4 separate regions of the Homo sapiens genome follow, and regions 2, 3 and 4 are each linked to region 1. The links come from fine-mapping of genetic effects on gene expression. A gene starts in region 1. Each other region holds a variant in brackets. All regions are shown on one strand. Distances are between the middles of the regions.

What was found. PIP is the estimated chance that this variant, and not a neighbour inherited with it, causes the effect. A credible set is the group of variants that fine-mapping cannot tell apart.
Region 2: its variant is the best candidate, but not a certain one, in a credible set for the expression of KLHL3 in whole blood (INTERVAL, PIP 0.64).
Region 3: its variant is the best candidate, but not a certain one, in a credible set for the expression of KLHL3 in testis (GTEx, PIP 0.59).
Region 4: its variant is the best candidate, but not a certain one, in a credible set for the expression of KLHL3 in unexposed skin (GTEx, PIP 0.55).

What each region holds. Positions count from the first base shown.
Region 1 is chr5:137,733,540-137,738,688 of GRCh38, reverse strand. KLHL3 (kelch like family member 3) reads left to right here and starts at 2,600. Exons shown (of 15, transcript NM_017415.3): 1 at 2,600-3,056. The coding sequence starts at 3,043. RefSeq lists enhancers at 2,333-3,001, 4,333-4,402.
Region 2 is chr5:137,680,798-137,685,946 of GRCh38, reverse strand. All of the region lies in intron 5 of KLHL3 (kelch like family member 3), which reads left to right. Among named protein-coding and RNA genes, the nearest start is that of MIR874, 36 kb to the right of the region's middle. RefSeq lists silencers at 993-1,287, 1,262-1,507. The variant GAA/A (reference allele first, on the strand shown) is at 2,180.
Region 3 is chr5:137,670,010-137,675,158 of GRCh38, reverse strand. The region is part of intron 6 of KLHL3 (kelch like family member 3); the gene reads left to right. Among named protein-coding and RNA genes, the nearest start is that of MIR874, 25 kb to the right of the region's middle. The variant A/T (reference allele first, on the strand shown) is at 1,916.
Region 4 is chr5:137,688,760-137,693,908 of GRCh38, reverse strand. It overlaps KLHL3 (kelch like family member 3), which reads left to right. Exons shown (of 15, transcript NM_017415.3): 5 at 1,462-1,624. Among named protein-coding and RNA genes, the nearest start is that of MIR874, 44 kb to the right of the region's middle. The variant G/A (reference allele first, on the strand shown) is at 2,313.

The DNA.
Region 1 (5,149 bases):
CCCAGGCTGGAGTGCAGTGGTGCAGTCTTGGCTCACTATAACCTCTGCCTCCCAGGTTCAAGTGATCCTCCTGCCTCGGGCTCCCAAGTAGCTGAGACTACAGGCACATGCCACCACACCTGGCTAATTGTAGTATTTTTAGTAAAGATGGGGTTTTACCAGGTTGGCCAGGCTGGTCTCAAACTCTTGACCTCAGGTGATCTGCCCGCCTTGGCCTCCCAAAGTGTTGGGATTACAGGTATGAGCCACTGTGCCTGAGTTAATTTTTATATATGGTGATAGGGTCCAGTTTCTTCTGCATATGGATAGCCAGTTATCCCAGCATCATTTATTGAAGTCCTTTCCCCATTGCTTATTTTTGTTGACTTTGTCGAAAATCAGTTGGTTGTAGGTGAACAGCTTTATTTCTGGGTTCTCTTTTCTGTTCCATTGGTCTATGTGTCTGTTTTTGTACCAATACCATACTGTTTTGGTTACTGTAGCCTTGTAGTATAGTTTGAAGTCAGTTAATGTGGTGCCTCCAGTTTTGTTCTTTTTGCTTAAGATGACCTTTCTTTTCTAAATGGCCTCTTCTGAGTGTTCTCTATTCTGTCTACCTCCTGTGAATCATGAGTGGTGAATAAAGTATGAAGGTGTAGTCGTATGGTTTTGCAGGGAAATTTAGCAGGGTTTTATACTGGCTCTTAATAGTTATATTTTGAAACTTGAATACATACAACCCTTACATATTTCCTTTTCTGATCTTTTTTCTTTGTCTGGTTTGTTAGATGTGGCATTTCCACACCTTCCTGTATGGCGAATATGTAAACGTGGGTATGTGCAAAGGAGGAGTCATCTCTTTCTTATGTCCCTTTTATGAATCACCCAGTTGTGTTCCTGGTGGATGTCTGAACTCTGGCACGGATTCCGAGATTCAGTTTCCTTATTTGTGATGTTCAGCTTTTTGTGGTCCCTGTGATTGGCCTCAAGAGGAAATATCTGGAGCAGGGCCACAAGGCTGATTAGAGGAGGAAGGGACATAGAGGGAACAAGATATGAGGGGTATTGTTGTGCAAGGAAGAAGTGAAGATACAGCCCTGTGGGGTGTAAATGAAATTATCCAGGCCTCTTCTCACTTGAGAAAGAGTGAGTGTGAGTAATGGCCTTGTCTAAGAGAACACTGAGGTGCCAGGGGAGGTAATCTTTGAGAATAACCCTGTAGCCAGTTTGAGTTCAGGAGGCTATATAAAGTTTTAGTTACTTTTACTTTCTGTCACCTCAGTGTTCCTCTCTTCCTTCTGTGGTTTTAGGGCTTTGTAGTAGTGAAGAAATTTAACAGGTTAAAATGATAAGGATGATAGATTTACTGAGCGTCTCTTCGTACTTTCACCTACATCATGTTATCCTCCTTGAAGCCCCCTACAACACATTGGAGCCTAGTATTTCTTCTTAAACAATCACACGGATTACTCTGAGAAGAAAAACGGACCATTTAAAACATTTTTAGAATCCTGTGATCTTGGAGCTGAAAGGGACTCTAAAGATTGTCTGGTCTGACCCTATATTGTGAATGAGTAGCTGAGCATGAGGTCCAGAGTGTGGAGAACACTACTCAGGAAAGTCACTCACCCAGTGAGTGCTGGTGTGGATTCGGAAAAGCCCAGGGGTGCCATGAGGTGTCCCAGAAGAGAGATGCTCATAGCTGATTTTTTTCTGAGGCATTAGGATAGCTTCTGCACCACTTTTTGCAGCTAATTGTCCCAGTTACCTCTAAGCCTCTGTGGCTAGGATATACAGACTGGCCTCATGCCTTCCACAAGATTATGTTTTAGTTTGGGAAAGAAGATTTATAAATAATGAATTAGCCAAGACTGTATATTAGGTGTGAGATGACGATACAGGAAAGTATAGTTTGTGTATTTTGGTGGTGATTGACTGTCATTGGTGTGATTAGGGAAGGTTTTATGAAGACATGGGATTTGACTGGACTCCCAGAAAGACTAAAGGACTGGGATTGGAGAAGGCATTTCAGGCAGGGAGAGTTAAATTAGTCTAAATTGAAGCTCAGCAGCTGGAGATTACAGGATGTGAAAGATCTTTGGCTGGATATGGGGGTTCAGTGGGAGACTTACTAGTTGGAGCCACTGCTTAAGTTAAATTCCAATATGACAGATTTTAGGAAGATATTTTAGGATTGTGCTAAGATATTTTAGTATTCATTGTGATAGCTTTACTGCAGTAGTCTTTGGCCTCTTGCAGTAAAATAGGGTTTGTTTCAGTTTCACCTATTTGTACTACCTCTCTTTTTCGACTAGTTTTCCAATTTCTCTCTGTATTCTCTTAATTTCTCTCTGTGTTTTTCTCACTTCTGTCAGGTGCTTTTCCCTTAACTTCTCCCCATCTATCAGACACTCAGAGCTACTACAGAATTTGGGAGGAGGATTTGGAACATAAACTGTGACCTACAAGTGAATTTCCCCAGGTGGATGATAAACTCCACTGCAGGCCACAGAGGGGCCTCCTCATTCCAGCAATCTGGCCAGGCTGACAGACTCATAGCCTATGGGAGCAGGGGAGGGTGTAGGGGCCAGTATTTCTCGGGCTAGTGACGAACTGCCTGATTCTTTGCAGCCTAGACAGAGGAGGCAGGAGCCCCAGGGGCGGGCTAATCGCCTGGGCTGGGGATGCCTGGGCAGATGCAGAGGAAGCTGGAAAGGTGGCAGTGCACCTGGGTCGCTGGAGCTGCCGCCGTTCCTAGGAGACCAAGGAGCAGCAAGCCTGCGGGGGAGGGGGAGCAAGTGGGTTGCTGCTTTTAGCAGCTGAAAGGGCTGCAGGGAGCTCTGGGTAAGACATTTTCTGTTGCTGCTGCTTTTGCGGTAGAAGCTGCTGCGAGTAAGTCAGAGGAAGGAGGATTGAGAAGGGAGGAGGCTTCACTTGCAGCCATGCTGAATCACTGTTGCTGATCAGATTTCCCACTGGTCTGCTGGGAGAATCAAGAACAGAACTAGGATCCCCGAGTGCATACACAGTTCAGCAGCTACCACCCTGGCTGGGCCTCACACAATGGAGGGTGAAAGGTATGTATGTATAAGTGTGTGCTGTGTTGTGTGTGTATGTAAGTGTATGTGTGCTTGCGGTGCAGCCACCAGCTTTTGTGTTTGCATTGGCTAGGCAGAGTTGGAAGACCTGGCCACTGATGGATCTTAAAGGGCGCCAGAACAAGAGCAGGAAAGCCGCTTTCCAAATCACCCGTTCCAGGGCTTGAATCTCCAGAGATCTGGCTTCCGCAAAGGCAGGTCTGGGTTTGCTAGGCAGCGGAGCACCCTGAAAGAAGGGACTTCCTGGCTGGTGTTCGGGAATAGTTTCAGCACAGGCTGAATCAGATTGCCTTTCTCAGGCTGTTTCAAGGAGGCGTTTCCCTTTCCTGGCTCCTTTCCCGGGGTGTTTTTTCTTTGGTGGGGGGTTTTTGATGTCATAGTGGGGCTGACCTGACATAGTGTACTTGCATTTTCACGCAGGAGTGCTTGAATCTTCAGCAAGCATGCCATGCTGATGGCTGTGTGTGTGCGCGCGTGCACGCCGTGTATGCCTGTATACACACACATTCAGGGATGAAGGAGAGAAACCCAGTCAGATGATACTTGCTCTGAACTGAGTTTCATATTTGTATTGAAAAGTTTATGAGTGATACTGGAAGGTCTGTGCTTCCTCCATCAGGGATTTCTTTTGAAATAGGAACCAGCAGAAAAGATTTTAAGTACTTTTGTTGAGCTGGATCTAACTAGCGAGGCAGTTAGATCCTGGCAGGCACACACATCTAAATTTTTAAATTGTTATCTGAAGATCTGAATCTTTCATTGTGAAGGTGCTCAGCGCAGTGCAGAGGTGACATTCCTCTGTCTATGAAGTAAAATATCTCTTGAGTGCCAACCTCTTCATTCTTTGGTCTGCAGTTGGTAGAGTACGAGGCTTGCCATTTTATCTGAGGAGAGAAGACTGCAGGGAGGGGTCCGGCCATGGCAGTGCACCACTGAGGGGAAGCCTGCTGCTCCAGATTGCCAGTTTGATGCAGACAGTAACCATCTGGTTAACAATAATAGGCTCAACTAAGTCAACACTAGAGAGTATCTCAATGAACACTTTCCTTTTCATGAGTTGTTGTGACTTCTGTGTCTCACGGGGCACAGTGATGCCATTAAACATCTCTAGACCCTATTAGAACTAGCATGATGATTGGGTGTCATTCTTTTGTCTGTAGAGGCCCTGGGAACTGTGTTTCTTGATGACTCCCACAGGAAGAGCCTGGGACTGACTGTGCTGCTGGTGCATTCTCTTTCTGGGTGCTCTTTGCAACAGGAGTTTAGTGTTGAACTCTGTGAGGCCTGCTGAGCAGCAGAATATGAAGGCCTATTTCCTAAGTGTGGGGCAGAGGTGAGCAGTGTCTTTGGTCCCCAAAACAGTGTCCCATTGATCTGGTAGGTGGCAGAGAATGGGGTTGATGCGATGAAGGTTTAGAGATTCTGGGCCATGCCTATTTGCTTGACCTGTGGTGTAACTGGGGTTGAGAGGTCAGTGTGAGACTACCAGCAGCGGATCAAACAGTTTTGGGCACTGTGTTCCCAGTTCTGTGTTCAGAAATATAGTGAGTCCTTGCCCCTGTCCTGGGGCCTCTCAGCTGGGATGGCTGATGTCTATGGCTTTAGAACACCAGGTTGCACATGTTCTTGTACTTTTCCTCTGCTGAAGGCAGATGGTAGACAAGAAATCCAAACCGAGCAGCTTCCAATGTTCACCAGGTCACCCAGGTCATACCTTTTGTTCCTGCTCCAAGTCCAGCTTACCATGCCACGCGTTCAAGTCTTCTGAACTCTAACTCCTGTTCCCATTTCCACTGCTCACTCATATACCTACTGAGAATTCTGTTGATCTCTTTCATGATCACCCATCCTATACATTACTCCATCTAGCCTCATATCCTTAGCTCCCAGAGTTTCTTTTGCTGGATGTCTTTCCCTTCCAATTTTGCAAAAGTTATCTATCTATCAAGGTTATTCTAAAATTCTACTTTATCTTGGAAACTCAGCTTTTCTAGTCCTGGCTGATGTTCTTCGGAATTCTAATACCTCTGGTTTGTATCTCATAGTTGGACACTGAATAATAGGCCCACCAG
Region 2 (5,149 bases), 53 kb after region 1:
ATGGGTGGAAAGAATTATACCACAATCCTACCCAGAGAGAACTGCTGGCAGCACCTTGATGTATATCCTTCCAAATCTTTTTCATTGTATATGTATGCTTTCCAGCTTAAAAAACATTTTAGCCAGGTACAGTAGCAGGTGCCTATAGTCCCAGCTACTTGGGAGGTTGAGGTTGATAGCTCAAGCATTCATGTGTAGCTTGAGCCACGGAATTTGAATCCAGCCTGGGTAACATAACAAGACACCCCATCTCTTAAAAAAACATTCTTAGCAGTATATTCTGAATTTCTTTCCATGTTAGCAGATACATTTCTAGACCATTGTTTGAAACATTTAGGTAATATATTCAATAAAAGCAATTTATACTCATGACCAAAAAATGCAAGCAGTACATAGAGGTATAAAATGCAAAGCCAGTCTTCTCCCAGCCTGTCTCTCTGAAGTGGGGAGATCCTTGGTATCCTTACAGAATTTATATATTATGCTTTTTAACTTACACAACAGAAAGCACTCTGTACTCGTTGTACTTTTGTTTGACAATACAAATCTTGCAATTATTTCCACACCCTTGTGTATGGCTATATCTTATTCTTTTAGTCTGCTGCATCTCATGGATGGAGTATAATTTATTTAACCAGTCTTCTGTTGATGGACATTAATGTTTCCAGTTTTTTTATTTAAAATGCTTCCATGAGAATTCTTGTACATAATATTTTGGAGTACACTTGCTAGTATACCTGTAGGGTACAATCTTAGTAGCATAGTTGTTGGATCAAAGAGAATGTACATTAAAAAGTTGTTTGATAGATTTTGCCAACTTGCTGTCTAAACAAATGTGACTTTATTTTAAAGCCAGTCTTGCCTTCTGATAGGTCCTCGGCTTTTCCAGCGAGAGCACAACTTTGTGGGGGCTGAAGCATCATCTCTATGTCCAGCTGCCTATTTGGTTTCCTGTTTGGAAGGGCCCTGTCTCTTCCTGCTGTGGCAGTCCCTCCTGCTTCCTCTGGATTCAGTTTCCCCCTCAGGGAAGTTCCCCAGATCTTTGCTATGATATATGTTATTCTGGGGTAGGGAGGGTAGGTCCCGCATTTAGAAGCTGACTGCTCAGACTCTTGCCTTAGCTAGTGGCATCACAGTCTTCCTGGGCAACTAGTAGCTGGGAAATGGACCCCAGTGTCTTTCACAGCCTGTTTCTTATACCTCATTATTGTTGTTTCCAGGGACTGCTTAATCTTTAACCTCAGAGGCCAGGGCCTAGGGTTATGGGGACTTTGTTGTTTGGTAATTGGACAGCCATACACTGGGCCATCAGCAGAGCTGTTTGGGAGGGATGTTAATGGGACTTCATTAATGAAATAGCAATTAAAATTCTTTGGACATGTTGTTTACATCAGTCTGCCAAAGCTAAGCAAAAACCTCCAGCCATGGGATGGAAAAGCCATTGGATTTCACGTGCTTATGGAGAGAAATGGCCTTTTTTTGATTGATTGAGTCATTTGAGATCATGGAATGAAGTAATTAAGGCAGCAGAAAAATTTGGAAAATCATTAAAAAACATAAATCTCTGACTCAGTGAGAGTCCTCTTCTAAAATTGCTGCTCCTAACTTGTCACCATGAAATAATGATGATCATAATGATGGGCATTTCTATCATTTTTGAATACTTGCTAGGTGCCAGGAATGGTGCTACATGATTCATAGGCATGGCCTCATTTTGTTCATTTAAGTATAAGAGTTATTATTTTCTCAGCTTATAGGTGAAGAAACTGTAACCCCAGAGAAGTTTAGTAACTTGTCCAAGATCATATATTAACAGCTTATAAGTGGCAGTGCCAGAGTGAGGCCAGCTGACTGCAGAGGTCTGTGTCCTAAGCCCCGCTACTTATTTCCCACCCACCCAGACCAGCCTAGCCTATTTTCTATGATGGTTGCCTCACTCCTGCCTCTCTTGGATTTTCTGCATCTAATTTGAAGTTGGCAAATGAGGCAGTCGTGCAGACACAGATAGGTTTCGTTGCTTGCTCTTTGTTAGGATTTTAGGAAACTTCACTTGTTCCATTTTCTGGGTTATGGGGAACCTCACTGTTGAATCAATAGCACTATTATGGCCCTTGGCTGTGTGTATGTGTGTGTGTGTGTGTGCGCGTGCATGTGTGTGTGTGAGAGAGAGAGAGAGAGA[GAA/A]AGAGAGCTAGAGAGAGAGAGAGAGAGAAAGAGAGGGAGAGGACAACACATAATATTTCTGGAGTAAGGCAACATGGAAAGAGAGCTTATTTCCTGCCTTCCCAGGGAGTGTGGAGGTAGTAATATTTAGAGTCTGAGGGCTGGTGGTCATGACCCTTCTGAGAAGAGGTCAAGGTGGGTCTCTGTTACTTCCCTGTGGGAACTGAGCCTTTTCCCTAGAGCAGAGAAACTGTGAGCCTGGAAAGCTAAATATTGATTCAAGGAAGCTTGCCTCTGGCCTCTAAAAATAGAGTAATAAGGGGCAGAAGAGAGAGTTTTAAGGCAGTTCTGTGGTTTTGTTTTTTCACCCTGCCAAAATGTTTCCATTTTGTTTGTGTGTCCACCTGTGTCAGCCAGTGTCTCCTGAGGGTGTGACCTGTGGTTCAGTTCAGAGGCACTCACACCTGTTCCCTGGGGCTGCTGGCCCTGGGAATTATGGGGCTTATGGGGTTTATTTCATCTCTGATTGGTAAAACACAATGAGTATGTTCCCGTCCATGTGGATGGGAAATTATGGAGAAGAGGAAGAGGCACCATATAACTTTCAGTCTTTTCCCACCAAGCAACACAAACATATCTTCCCAATGTTAAAAGGATGATAAAATTTGGGTGATACATTCCCAGGCAAGGGCTTTCTCTGGGGGTACAGTTGGGTCTCAGAGAAAGTTGAGGCCATTTCCTAATACTAGCTAACACCATTCTAAGCATTTTACATATATTATGTCTCTCAATCCCCGCAAAGTCAAGGAAGTCACAGATGGGTCATCATTCCATTTGTTCTGAGCTTGTAGGTTAGATGAACCAGATCAAAGGTTTAGGTTTATTTCATTCCGTGAAGAGAGAAGAATAGTCCTGGGGCTAGCTTGAGAGGTTGCCTGAACCCTAGGCAGTCTTGAAGAACAGTCAGGAAAGTGCAGTAATAATTTTAGAGCTCGGTATATACAGATATTATGCTGGAGACTGAGGATTCAGCTTCAAATAACACAGACTTGATCCCTGACCTCATGGGGCTCCCAGTCCGAATAGAATAGAAAGATTCATGTAATAAAGCAGGGTGATTAGGGATATGATTGTTATATCTTGTTTGGGGGGCTTTGGGAACCCCAAAGACTATCACTTCCTCTAGCCTAGTGGATGGGGGGATTAGGGAAATATCTTAATTCTGGGGTTAGGTCTGAGATTTGAACCTAGAACTGACTCCAAAATGCCAAGAAGTTAGGAATTTAGGGACTAAGATTATTCTCTTTTTTCCCCAAAGAAAGGTTTTTAGATGCATATCCTCTGTCTATGCCTCTCTCTCTCTCTCTCTCTCTCTCTCTCTCTATGTCCAGCACCCCTGAGAGGGATTCTTAAGGTTTTCTGATGTCTGTGTTGAATTTTACCCCAGTGGACTGCTCAGGATAGGTGTTTATCTTGGTACCTAAGATACTCATCAGAATATTTGTTATTATAATTGGGCAGTCTTGGTTCAAAACCTGGCTCTACCAGGTTTACTATTCTGTAAACCTAAGCACCTGTCTTAGAGTTTCTGGGCTTCTGTTTCTCCATCTGTAAAATGGGGATGTTGATACTCACTTTAGTAGGGCTTTTGCGGGGATTGAGAGACATAATATATGTAAAATGCTTAGAATGGTGTTAGCTAGTATTAGGAAATGGCCTCAACTGTCTCCGAGACCCAACTGTACCCCCAGAGAAAGCCCTTGCCTGGGAATATATCACCCAAATTTTATTATCCTTTTAACATTGGGAAGATATGTTTGTGTTGCTTGATGGGGAAAAGACTGAAAGTTATATGGTGCCTCTTCCTCTTCTCCATAATTTCCCATCCATATGGACAGGAACATACTCATTGTGTTTTACCAATCAGGACATGGAACTTAAACAATATTTGTTACTTATAGTAAAACCTGGCTAATTAGGACTCTTAACCAGAACTCTTAATTAACTGACTTATTTTTCTCTGTGTCCACCCCTCTTAAAGAAAAAGAAGCGAAACGATAAGAAAAGTTAGTTATTATTGGAGAGTTACCCTTCAAGGGCTAACTCTCCAATAATAACTCTCTTTTAACCCATGGTTAAAAGGTACTATGCCCCCGGCACATGCATCCCTCCCCCAGGATCTAGCCTTGTCTGCCTCTCCATTGCATCTCCAAGAGCCTGCAGAGCTCCTCATACTTAGGGAGTGCTCAGCAAACCTTTGTTGGATGAATGAAGACATCACCTAGGTTCTAGCTAGACTTCACTATTACTGTTCTTTACATATGCTCTGAATTTTCCTGTTCCCTGCCTTTGTTTGTACTGAAAGTACCTCTCTCAGTCATGTGAGAGGTGGACTTTGGGATGGAGTTATTGATGCCTTGTCTTATCTTGCTTGTGAGGCAGTAGGGTCCTTGTAGACATCAGTTCTGGTTTCTTCATTTTTGAAGAAATGCTGCATTTGATACATCATACGTTAAGAGTTATCTAGCACCTGCAATGGACTCAGTAAATGTGAGTCACATCTATTTCTTTATTTAATGCCCATATCACCTTATGTACTATTATTATTTCCATTTAATATATGGGAAACCTGCAGCCTCAAGGAACTGAATAACCTATACCACTGGACAGTTTGTTGAATTCGATAGAATTAAATTTGTTCTCTAAGATCTTGCAGGTCCACAGCCTTGCCCATAGGATCTGCAGTCCCAAAGGATGTCTTAACATTTTTTTTTTTAAATAGAGAGGGGCCTCACTTTATTGACCAGGCTAGTCTTGAACCCCTGACCTCAAATGATCTTCCTGCGCAGCCTTCTAAACTGTTAGGATTATAGGTATGAGCCACTGTGCCTGGTCCCAAGGGATATCTTGATATAGAAAATCTTCTCTGTTAAAGAGTGGTGCTGCCGGCCGCAGTGGCTCACACCTGTAATCCCAGCATTTTGGGAGA
Region 3 (5,149 bases), 64 kb after region 1:
ATTTCATATTTGCTTCTTGGAACTTATATGTAACTTCAGAATTATGTGCTGCTTTTCATAAAGCAGATTACTCATGATCTTGATCCCTTTAGTACCTTTAAGGTTGGCAGTGTAATTTTGAGGTTTATTAAAGAATAGTGGGGCTTGGTCTACATTTTCTCTTTGGCTAACCTCATAGTTTTATTTCTCCATAATTGATCATGTCTTGCTGGAAGTTAAATAGCTGGAAGCTTCTGACAATTAGATGTTTTTCATTTTAATGCTAGTCCTTTAGGCTTTGAAAATTCTGTGTCTGCTCCAGGAGATTTAGTGATTTCTACGCCCTTTAATTACATTGTGTGTGATAAGCAATCTCTTGCATGCATAATAACCTTTCCTTTCAATACTGTTTTATAGTGGAATTTTAAAATGTATTTGAAGTAATATTAGGGATCTTAAGTTAAAATTCAACTGCATATAATGTTAACAGTTGCAGAAAACCCAACTGGGTTGGTAATCAAGTAACTGGTGTTCCACTAAATCCACACTTAACAGCATAACGGCAATTATGACTTACTCTGCATGCAGCCCACAGATTTCTTTGAACATATATTATAAAATGAAGCCAGATTTCAGACATTAACATGTAAAAAACACATACGCCTTAAAATAGAGGAAATGTAATATTTTACTATTAATGATGAGTGTAAGTAACAGGCAGCTTTCATCTTGTAAGTTTGCAAGTATAACTTCTACAGTCAGAGGGGCTCAGTTTGAATTTTGACTTCCCTACTTAAACAAGCTGAGAACCCTGGGCAAGTTATTTATCTCCCACAAGAATGTATGTACCGTATACAAGTAGATAGACAGGAATTTTGTCTGTCTGCTTGTCGCTGCTGGAGTGGTATCAGGTTCATGGTAGACACTAAAAAAATAGCTGTTGAAAGGACGAATAAAAGAACCTCCCTATGGCTCAGTTTTCTCATCTGTAAAAGGTGAGTAATGGTAGTATAGTATCTACCTTGTAAGGTTGCTATGAGGATTAAATGGGATGATATATGAAAAAAGCTTAGAATATAAGAAGTGTTCATTACTGTAAGATACTGTTGTTATTGCTGCTATTATTATGGTTATTACTACTAGTACTGCTCCTAGTAGTAGTCATAACTGTTGACTGGAGCCTTTCCTAAGGGGGAGTCTTCCCAGTGCCCATGTTGGTCTGGGTTGTTGGCATGACCTGGGGCCCCAGTGCCTAGCAGGGTCAGAGAGTGGTTGTGACCTCATGCTCCCCAGTGTCCCCAGCCCTGCCTGGGCCCCTCCCAGAGCTCAGAGACTGTTCTTCCAGCATCACTTGCTTTTGCCCATTCCTTATCTCCTCTACTGCCCTCAGATGCCTTGAGGGCTGTGAGGGTACCTTAGTCATCTTTGTATCACATGCAGTACCTGACTCAGTGCCCCAGGAGGTGCCACGGAAGGACTCAGCAGATGTCCCCCAAGGGATTGAGGTACACTGGGGCTGGAGTTTGCACTGAGCCAGCTGAGGTTATGGGAATAATTTTAACAGTTTTCTAGAGAGTAAGGACAGATAGGGGAATTAGAGGGTAGGGGAGGGCATGAATCCTTGCCATTTTTGCTCTTGTTTTTCCTTCATGTGGTTTTTATTTTAGAATTCTTGTTATTGAGAGAGGTCAAATGGATGTGATGGGAGTCACACAAAATCACTAGTTCATTGTGTAGGACCTTCCCCTTCCTCATGTCATGCCAGACCCCTATTAACTTCAATAGGGATGGCATCATGTTCAAGAGGTTGAAGAAGAGGCCCGGAGGCAGCGAACAAGACATAGGGTTTATTGAGGGCACTTACGTACAGGGCTGTCCAGTGGTGGCAGGCTGGACAGGAAATTGCAACTGCTTGTAAAATGCATGCAGTTTATAT[A/T]GCATTTTCACTTAACACCCTCCTGCTGGTGACCTTCACCTGGCAACCTTCATTTAACACAAAACAAAGGGCCTCAATCCCCTATATGGCCTGCATTTCCCAGGATGGGCTGGGGTTCAGATGTTCCTCATAGATAAGGAATGAATCTCCAGGTTCTTGATTCCTTAGCGTGGAACACTGAACACACATTCTTCTTAGACCGTAGAGTCATTCTCAGGGTATGCTTAAGTTATTGCTGTCAGGTGCATCTATCATACACTCCACTACCCTGAGGATAGAGACAAGAAGATTAAAGCCAGGCATCTGATTCTTCCACATGGTGGGTGTTGAGGGGTTAGGGCTAAGCCTGTGAGCTGACGGCATGTTTATTGTATTTCCCCTTGAGACACAAAGTTCAGCTCTGGCCATGAACATCCTCAGTGACCCAGTGACCCAGGGGCAGAATAAACAACCTTCTGGGACAAACCCACTCTAAGGAAAGAGATATGACTCCTGAGTTCGAGTGCAGTTTTGCTGTTGAATTGCTGTGGGACCTAGCAAGTTACTGGACTTCTTTGAATTTTGGCTTTCCTAGCTGGTAAATATATGTCTCCATCTCAAGATCTCTTGCCTTCTTATGAAACACTATTGAGGCTTTTCAGAGACACCTCTGAGTGAGTCTTAACAGGGAAATGGCCTGCATTTTAGATACCGGTCAGGAAGAAATTTATTAAGTCTTTTTAAAAAATTAGTGTTAAGTATGTTCTGGAATAAGAACTATAGGTTACTTCTCTTTGCATTATCACATTTTAAAATGCGCTGTTGTCTCCTTAAACTGCATTTTAGAGACCAAATTTTGATATCTTATTTCTTGGGAGGGACTGGGCCCTTGTCTCCCAGGATCATTGGTGTTCCATGCCCTTCTGTCTGAATTCCTTGCCTTTCCAGCAAGGTGGTTGTGGGAGGCAGGCTGTGGGAGGCAGGCTGGAGAGCCTTGGCCGGTGGGCTGGGCTTGCATGATTGCTGCCGAGGCATTGCCAGGTGACTGAGCAGGTGTACCCTGCTGCCTAGGCCGAGCTGTTGGCAGCCCTGCCTTACTCTGAGGTTATCAGAGTTGCCAGCTTCTCAGCTTGCCAACAACAGTGATCTGTTAACGCCCTACCTTGGCGTTACTCTTTTTACTGTTCTCCTTTGGATGGTGGAATTCAATAACTACCCATGCACAGAATATGACAGCACCGTGCCCCCAAATCTACCATGACCAACCAGTGTTCTCCAGGTATGTTTCACTCATCATTTTTTTTTTAAACAGGAAGTTTGTATTGAAGTAAGTTCATGGAGAAGTAAACAAATCAAGTATACAACTAAACTTTTTACGAAGTAAAACACCCACATAACTAGCACCCAGGTCAAGAAACAAACCCCAGAACCCCCTTCCAGTTACTACTCCCTACCCTGGGAAGGGCACCTACCTTCTTGGCTTCTCACACCTTAGGTGAGTTTTACCCATTTTGGAAGCTTATATAAATTGAACAGTGGTGCGTGTGTGCTTTTGTGTCTGATTTTTTCCTGTCCAGCATGACATTCAGAGAACATCATTTCTAATCCTCACAACAAGTTGCAAGGCAGAGATTATTGTCTTCATTTTGCAGACGAAGAAACTAAGGTTCAGAGAGGTGACACAGCTCATTAACCGTAGATAGCTCCATGATGTGAAGCTGTGTGTGTCTGCCTCCCAAGCCCCACTCTTTATGAATGCACCCCCACCCTGATGAGGGGTACAGAGATGAGTGACAGGTAGTCATTTCTATTCAGGGGCTCATAGACTGGTGGGCAGACGGACTGAAAACATGTGTCCATAGTACGTGGCCAAGAGAAATAATTGCTTATAATTATAGTTCAAGGAAAGTACCTGGAATATTTTATTCCAGGTTGTTGTATAGGAAAGACATCATGGAAAAGAGAGTCTTTGAGTTAAACTTTGGTGAATGAGGGTAGAATTTTGGAAAGCCATTTAGGTTGGAGGAATAGTAGGACTATTCCTACTAAAGACTTGGAAGTTTGGAATAGCTCGTACCTGGGGAGAAAAGTAAACTCTGTGATAAGAATCAAGGACCGTGGAGAATGGTGGGAAATGAGGCTGGGAGTGGGGTAGGAGTCTGTGAAGAGATTTAAGGAGTGAGAGCTTTCTTCTTCAGGTCAGTATTTGCTTAACTGTATCCCATAAAGACACAGTATTACAAGATGTTTATAGGTGTTTGGGGCTTTTTTGTTGTTGTTTTTTTTTTTTTTTGAGGTGGAGTCTCGCTCTTTGCCCAGGCTGGAGTGCAGTGGCACGATCTCGGCTCACTGCAACCTCCGCTTCCCAGGTTCAAGCGTTTCTCCTGCCTCAGCCTCCTCAGTAGCTGGGATTACAGGTGCCCGCCACCACTTACGGCTATTTTTTTTTTTGTATTTTTAGTAGAGACGGGGTTTCATCATATTGGTCAGGCTAGTCTTGAACTCCTGACCTCATGATCCGCCTGCCTCAGCCTCGCAAAGTGCTGGGATTACAGGCGTGAGCCACAGCACTTGGCCAGGTTTTTTTGTTTGTTTGTTTGTTTTAAGCATTCTCAGGTCAGATACATTTAGGAGACACTGGCTGAACAAAGTAACCAGGTTTCTTTACTACAGGAGTTGTCAGAGCTTTTATATGGTAATGAGCTTTGTGAACCTTTAAGGGATATTTGAGGATACAGTATGATGTGTTTCTTAGGCTCATTTGGCCCCTGAGCCCCTTTACTACAGAATATCTCCTGCATCTAGTATCCTTAGGAACACATTATAGAGTAGAGTCTTTAAGCCACCTTTCATTGGTTGTCCCAGATATTCTACTATTTTTTGCATCTTTGATATGTCTTTTGGTAATTCATTTCCAAAATGAATTATAATTTTTGATTGTGACTTCATGTTCAGAGGATGTCATATCCTGGGAATCTAGGTTGCCCTGGGCTGTGGACCCTGTAGGGCAGGTTTACTGGTTTAGGAAACAGTTTTTGTATTAGATATTGTCTTAGATATTTCCCATACCACCTGGGTGATGTCAGTTCAAACTCTCAATTTTTATGTGGCATGAGTCTAGGGTTTGGGTTTCTTGAAGATGTAGATTTTACTCCCTGTCTTTCCCTTCTCCCTTGCCTCCCACGCCACTGCGTTCCTCAGCCCACAGGAGATGGCGAGCTTCCTTCCCCTTACTCATAGCACATGGGCAGAGTT
Region 4 (5,149 bases), 45 kb after region 1:
CTTGGGAGAAAGAGTCCAGAATTTAAAGCACTTAAAAAAAAAAAAAAGAAGTCTTTTTCAAGTGTCCTGAATCAAGAAAACAAATGCATCTGCAGCCCATATCTTCCTGGGCAAGCCCTTGTGGCTGGGAACAGCTAGAGTGTAGCTGGCTCAGTCACTCTCTCAGAGCCAGGGCAGCAGCTGAGAGCAAAGGCCTGGGGCAAGGGGATTATTTTGGGGTGAAGTGGATGCCAGGGTCCCCAAGATAAGCAGCCTTAAATCAAGCTATTCTGTAGTGTGATTTTTTTTCTAAATTTCTTTTTGGAAAATCATTCTCAGACTACCTGCTGCTTCCATAGGTGAAGGGCAGGGTAGCAGAGCTGGAGTGGGACAGGACTTTGGCCTTTTGTCCTGTATGTTTGATCTAGAGGCAGGCTTCAGCAGCTGAGGGAAAGTCCTAGGGAAAATTGATAGAGGTTGGCTGTCTGAGCACCCAGCGGGCCTGCTCAAGCCAGTCTTCCCTGACCCTTAGGAAAAACACATGCATATACACCTGAGCAAGAACTATTTCTGTCTTTCAGGATATAGTATAAATAGTCATGTGTCCTGTGACCTTTTAAATGGAAACTTAGCTCTCCTTTCTCTAAGAATGTACCTAAAGATGTTCTTTGCTTTGTATCTGTTTGATGGGAGAATAAAGTGTCGTTGCCTGAGTCCTGAGGGATTTGGAATGAATCTTGTTCCAGTAGACTCTAAGCTCCAGGAGAACAGGATCTGGTTTCTCTTGCTTACCCCTGAATCCCAGAGCCTAAACTAGTGCCTGGCACATAGATGTTCAGTAATTAATCATTCATTAAGTACCTTTCTGAATGAGGACAGTACACTGAAGGTTGTGGGACAGTGGCTCTCAAACGTGGCTGTACATTAGAAGCACCTGGGGAGCTTTAAAAAACATCTTAATGTCCAGGCCACACTCCATACCTATTGAGTTAGATTCTTTTAGGGCAAGACCTAGACATCAGTAGTTTTAAAACTCTTAAGGTAATACCAGTGTGCAGCCCAGTATGAGAACCATTGTGTGTGTGTGTGTGTGTGTGTGTGTGTGTGTGTAGAGTTTTGTTACTCAAAGTGTGGTTTGTGGACCAGCAACTGCAAGCATCACTTGAGTTCTTATTAGAAATGCAGGCTCTCAGATCCCATCCTAGACCTAATGAATTAGAATCTGCATTTTAATAAGATCCCCAGGGATTAAAGACTGGGAAGCATGGCTGTAGGGATACAGAGAATCTGCTGGTGTTTAGGGTCCGTGAAGGGCAGAGTAGTGGGAAATAAGGCTGGAAAGCAGGCTAGGAAGTTTGGACTTACTGGCGGGCAGTGGAGAGCCATGAAAAGATCTTGAGCATGGGAGTGATATGATAGGAAAAGGCAGATGAGTCTCTGCCAGTGGGATCCAATATCTGAGAATGTCACCTTCTCTTGCAGGTGCTGCTCCCGGCAGCCAGCTTGCTGCAGCTCATGGATGTTCGGCAGAACTGCTGTGACTTCCTGCAGTCTCAGTTGCATCCCACCAATTGCCTGGGCATCCGTGCATTTGCAGATGTACACACCTGCACTGACCTTCTGCAGCAGGCCAATGCCTACGCAGGTAAGGGGGAGCCGGACTGCTGCACCTCCTCCGAGTTTGTGGATCTAATCACCTGGTCTTCTGCAGACTCCTCAAAGATTATGAGAAGTGGTCTCTGCTGTGAAGCAGCTATGATTTAGTTAGGGATACAGGTGGAAAGATAATTAATGATAGGACAGTTTAGCTCATTGCCAAGTGGAAAATGATTAATTGCCAAGGGGATGGTACAGACAGTAATTTTCACTAGAGTAGAGGAAGGAGATCCAAGAAGATTTGGGGAGTGGGGAGAGCAAACTGAGCTAGGTCTTGAGCTACGTCTTGTTATTGTTAAGAAAAGCTTTGTTTTTATCTGAGCGTTCCATAAACATTCTTTTAAAAGTCACGTACTGGCTGGGCGCAGTGGCTCACGCCTGTAATCCCAGCACTTTGGGAGGCTGAGGCAGGCGGGTCATGAGGTCAGGAGATCGAGACTATCCTGGCTAACACGGTGAAACCCCCGTCTCTATTAAAAATACAAAAAAAAAAAAATTAGCGGGGCTTGGTGGCGGGCGCCTGTAGTCCCAGCTACTTGGGAGGCTGAGGCAGGAGAATGGTGTGAATCCGGGAGGCGGAGCTTGCAGTGAGCCGAGATTTCGCCACTGCACTCCAGCCTGGGTGACAGAGCGAGACTCCATCTAAAAAAAAAAAAAAAGTCACGTACTATTGCAGG[G/A]CTTATAACGATGAGGAGTGCCCTGCTCCACCTTTCCACACTGAGTCTTGTGCTCCAGAGCCACTCATTTTCAATCCTTAAGGAATTAAAATGCAGGTTCTGATCCAGCTAAAAGCTACTTCATCTGCTACTCACTTCCATTTATCAAAATAATATGTGCAACTGCTATTTTTTGATTAGTTTTAGATATTATTTGTTGACTTCTCCAGAAGAATAAGATTGAGCTTTTGCAGACTTTCCCTTTATACACATGCAGCCACCCCCCTCTTTATTGTCCAAATACCATTTCCACAACTGAACTAAGCCATCTATTATAATTATAGTGTTTTTTTAAATCAGAAAACTTTAATAAGAAGGGCAGTTAATAATTGTCTTTTTCTCTTGCATAGTGTATGGTTCTACCACTAATTCTTGTTAGAACAGTCCTCAATACATCAGATAATCTGTTGGTTCACTTATTTTTCTTGGAGACATTCTCTGCACTAGAGCTTGTCATTCTATTATTTTAATGGGGTTTTGGGAGGGAGTAGAAATGAACATTTATATTCAGTCCATTATGTTTATTTAGCTAGCTGGAAAGAAATCTTCATTGCCACTTGTTCCAGCCTGAAGAAAGATGGTGAATGACTAGGAAATAGGTCTGATCATTTAACTTGATAAATTCAGTCATGGCCACCTTCTTCCCTTGCAATAAAACACCTCCTTCTTACCCCTGCTCAAGCACTGTCATGGCTGCTATTCTGTTCCGTGTCTCCTGTTTGGCCAGTGTCTGGAAATTAGCTGAGGACCTACTGGCTGCCCACCTGCCAGCTAGCTACCTGTGCTGTGTTAGCCTCTTGGTCAACAAAGCAACAAGCATTTGCTCCATTTCTTGGCATGCTTTTTCTCTCTGATTAAGTCCCTGACCCCAGGAGCCTGCAGAGACTCTCATGTCTCCCTGCAGCCTGTTTCTGAAGGCACAAACAAGTCTTCTTTCTGAAGACTTGTAAAGATAGTCTTGATATGATGATTTTTGTGAAGGACATTACCCAGTAGCCTCAATTCTGAGTCCTGCTGATTCTTTCTGGCTCTGAACCTTGACCCTTCTGCTTCTCTGCCGTTCCTGTGCTCTCTTTTCCCTGCATATTCTCCACTGCCTTTCCACCTTCACTTAGGGAGCCCTTTCTCTTCCTGGGGAGGGCTCCCAGTGAAGCCTTTGAAGAGGTCACTTTCTAGATGGATGGGTGTGCTAAGGCAAGCATTTTCTCTGCAGATTTTTTTTTTTTTTTTTGAGATGGAGTCTCGCTCTGTCGCCTGGGCTGGAGTGCAGTGGTGCAATCTCGGCTCACTGCAAGCTCCGCCTCCTGGGTTCACGCCATTCTCCTGCCTCAGCCTCCCGAGTAGCTGGGACTACAGGCGCCTGCCACCACGCCAGGCTAATTTTTTGTATTTTTAGTAGAGATGGGGTTTCACCGTGTTAGCCAAGATGGTCTCGATCTACTGACCTTGTGATCCGCCTGCCTCAGCCTCCCAAAGTGCTGGGATTACAGGCGTAAGCCACTGTGCCTGGCCTGCAGATTCTTTTCACAAACGTTTGCTAGTGCAGTGGCAAAGGGAGAGTGCTTAGATGTCAGAAATTCTGTCTCCTTCTTCTGTGTCTCCTCTTACCAGCCCTCTCCTTCCACATAGTGTGTGATGCATGTGTGTGTACACCTAGCACATATCCCACCCTAATTGGCTGATACAGTTGTCTGAGGTTTGGGGAGTATACTGAATCCCCACCTTTTTTAAAATTTAAAATTACATTCTAGATTCAAGAGGTACATATGCAGGTTTGTTATGTTTGTATATTGTGTGATGCTGAGTTTTGGCTTCTGTTGATCCCATTACTCAGATGGTGAACATAGTACCCAATAGGAAATTTATCAGCCCTTGCCCCCACTCCCTTTGGAGTCCCCAGTGTCTGTTTTTCCCATCTTTATGTCCATAGGCACCCAGGGTTTAGCCCACTTACAAGTGAAAACACGTGATATTTGGTGTTCTGTTTCTGTGTTAATTAACTTAGGATAATGGCTTCCAGCTGTGTCCATGTTACTGCAAAGGACATGATTTTGTTCTTTTTTATGGCTGCGTAGTATTCCATGGTGTACCACATTTTCTTTATCCAATCCATTGTGGATGGGCACCTAGATTGATTGCATGTCTTTGCTATTGTGAATAGTGCTTAATGAACATATGTGTGCATGTGTCTTTTGGTAGAACAATTTATTCTCCTTTGGGTATATACCCAGTAATGGGGTTGCTGGGTCAAATGGTGGTTCTATTTTTAGTTCTTTGAGAAATCTCCAGACTGTTTTCCACAGTAGCTGAATTAATTTACATTCCCACCAGCAGTATATAAGCATTCCCTTTTCTCTGCAACCTTGCCAGCATCTGTTGTTTTTTGACTTTTTAATAATAGCCATCCTGACTGGTATGAGATGGTATCACTTGGTAGTTTTGATGTGCATTTCTCTAATGTGAATCCCCACCTTTATTAGGGCTCCCAGGCTCTTCTGGCCTGGCTTTTCCCAACTTTCAACGTCTGTGTTTTCTCCTTTGCCCCTTTCACTATCTGATGATGAGACTCATCTGTGGGAGAGTGCAGCAGATGCAGCTGGGAACACATCCATCTTTCTGGTGCTCCTTGGTCCTGTTGCTGTTATAGTGATTGAGTTCTGTCTGCATTATGGGTCTGTGTATGCAGACATCCTGATGAATTATTCTTAGCTAGTGTTTATTGAGCTCTCCCTTTGGGTCATACCCTATGCTAAGCATTTTATTGGCAACATCCCGTTTAATGCATATGATAGCTGAGG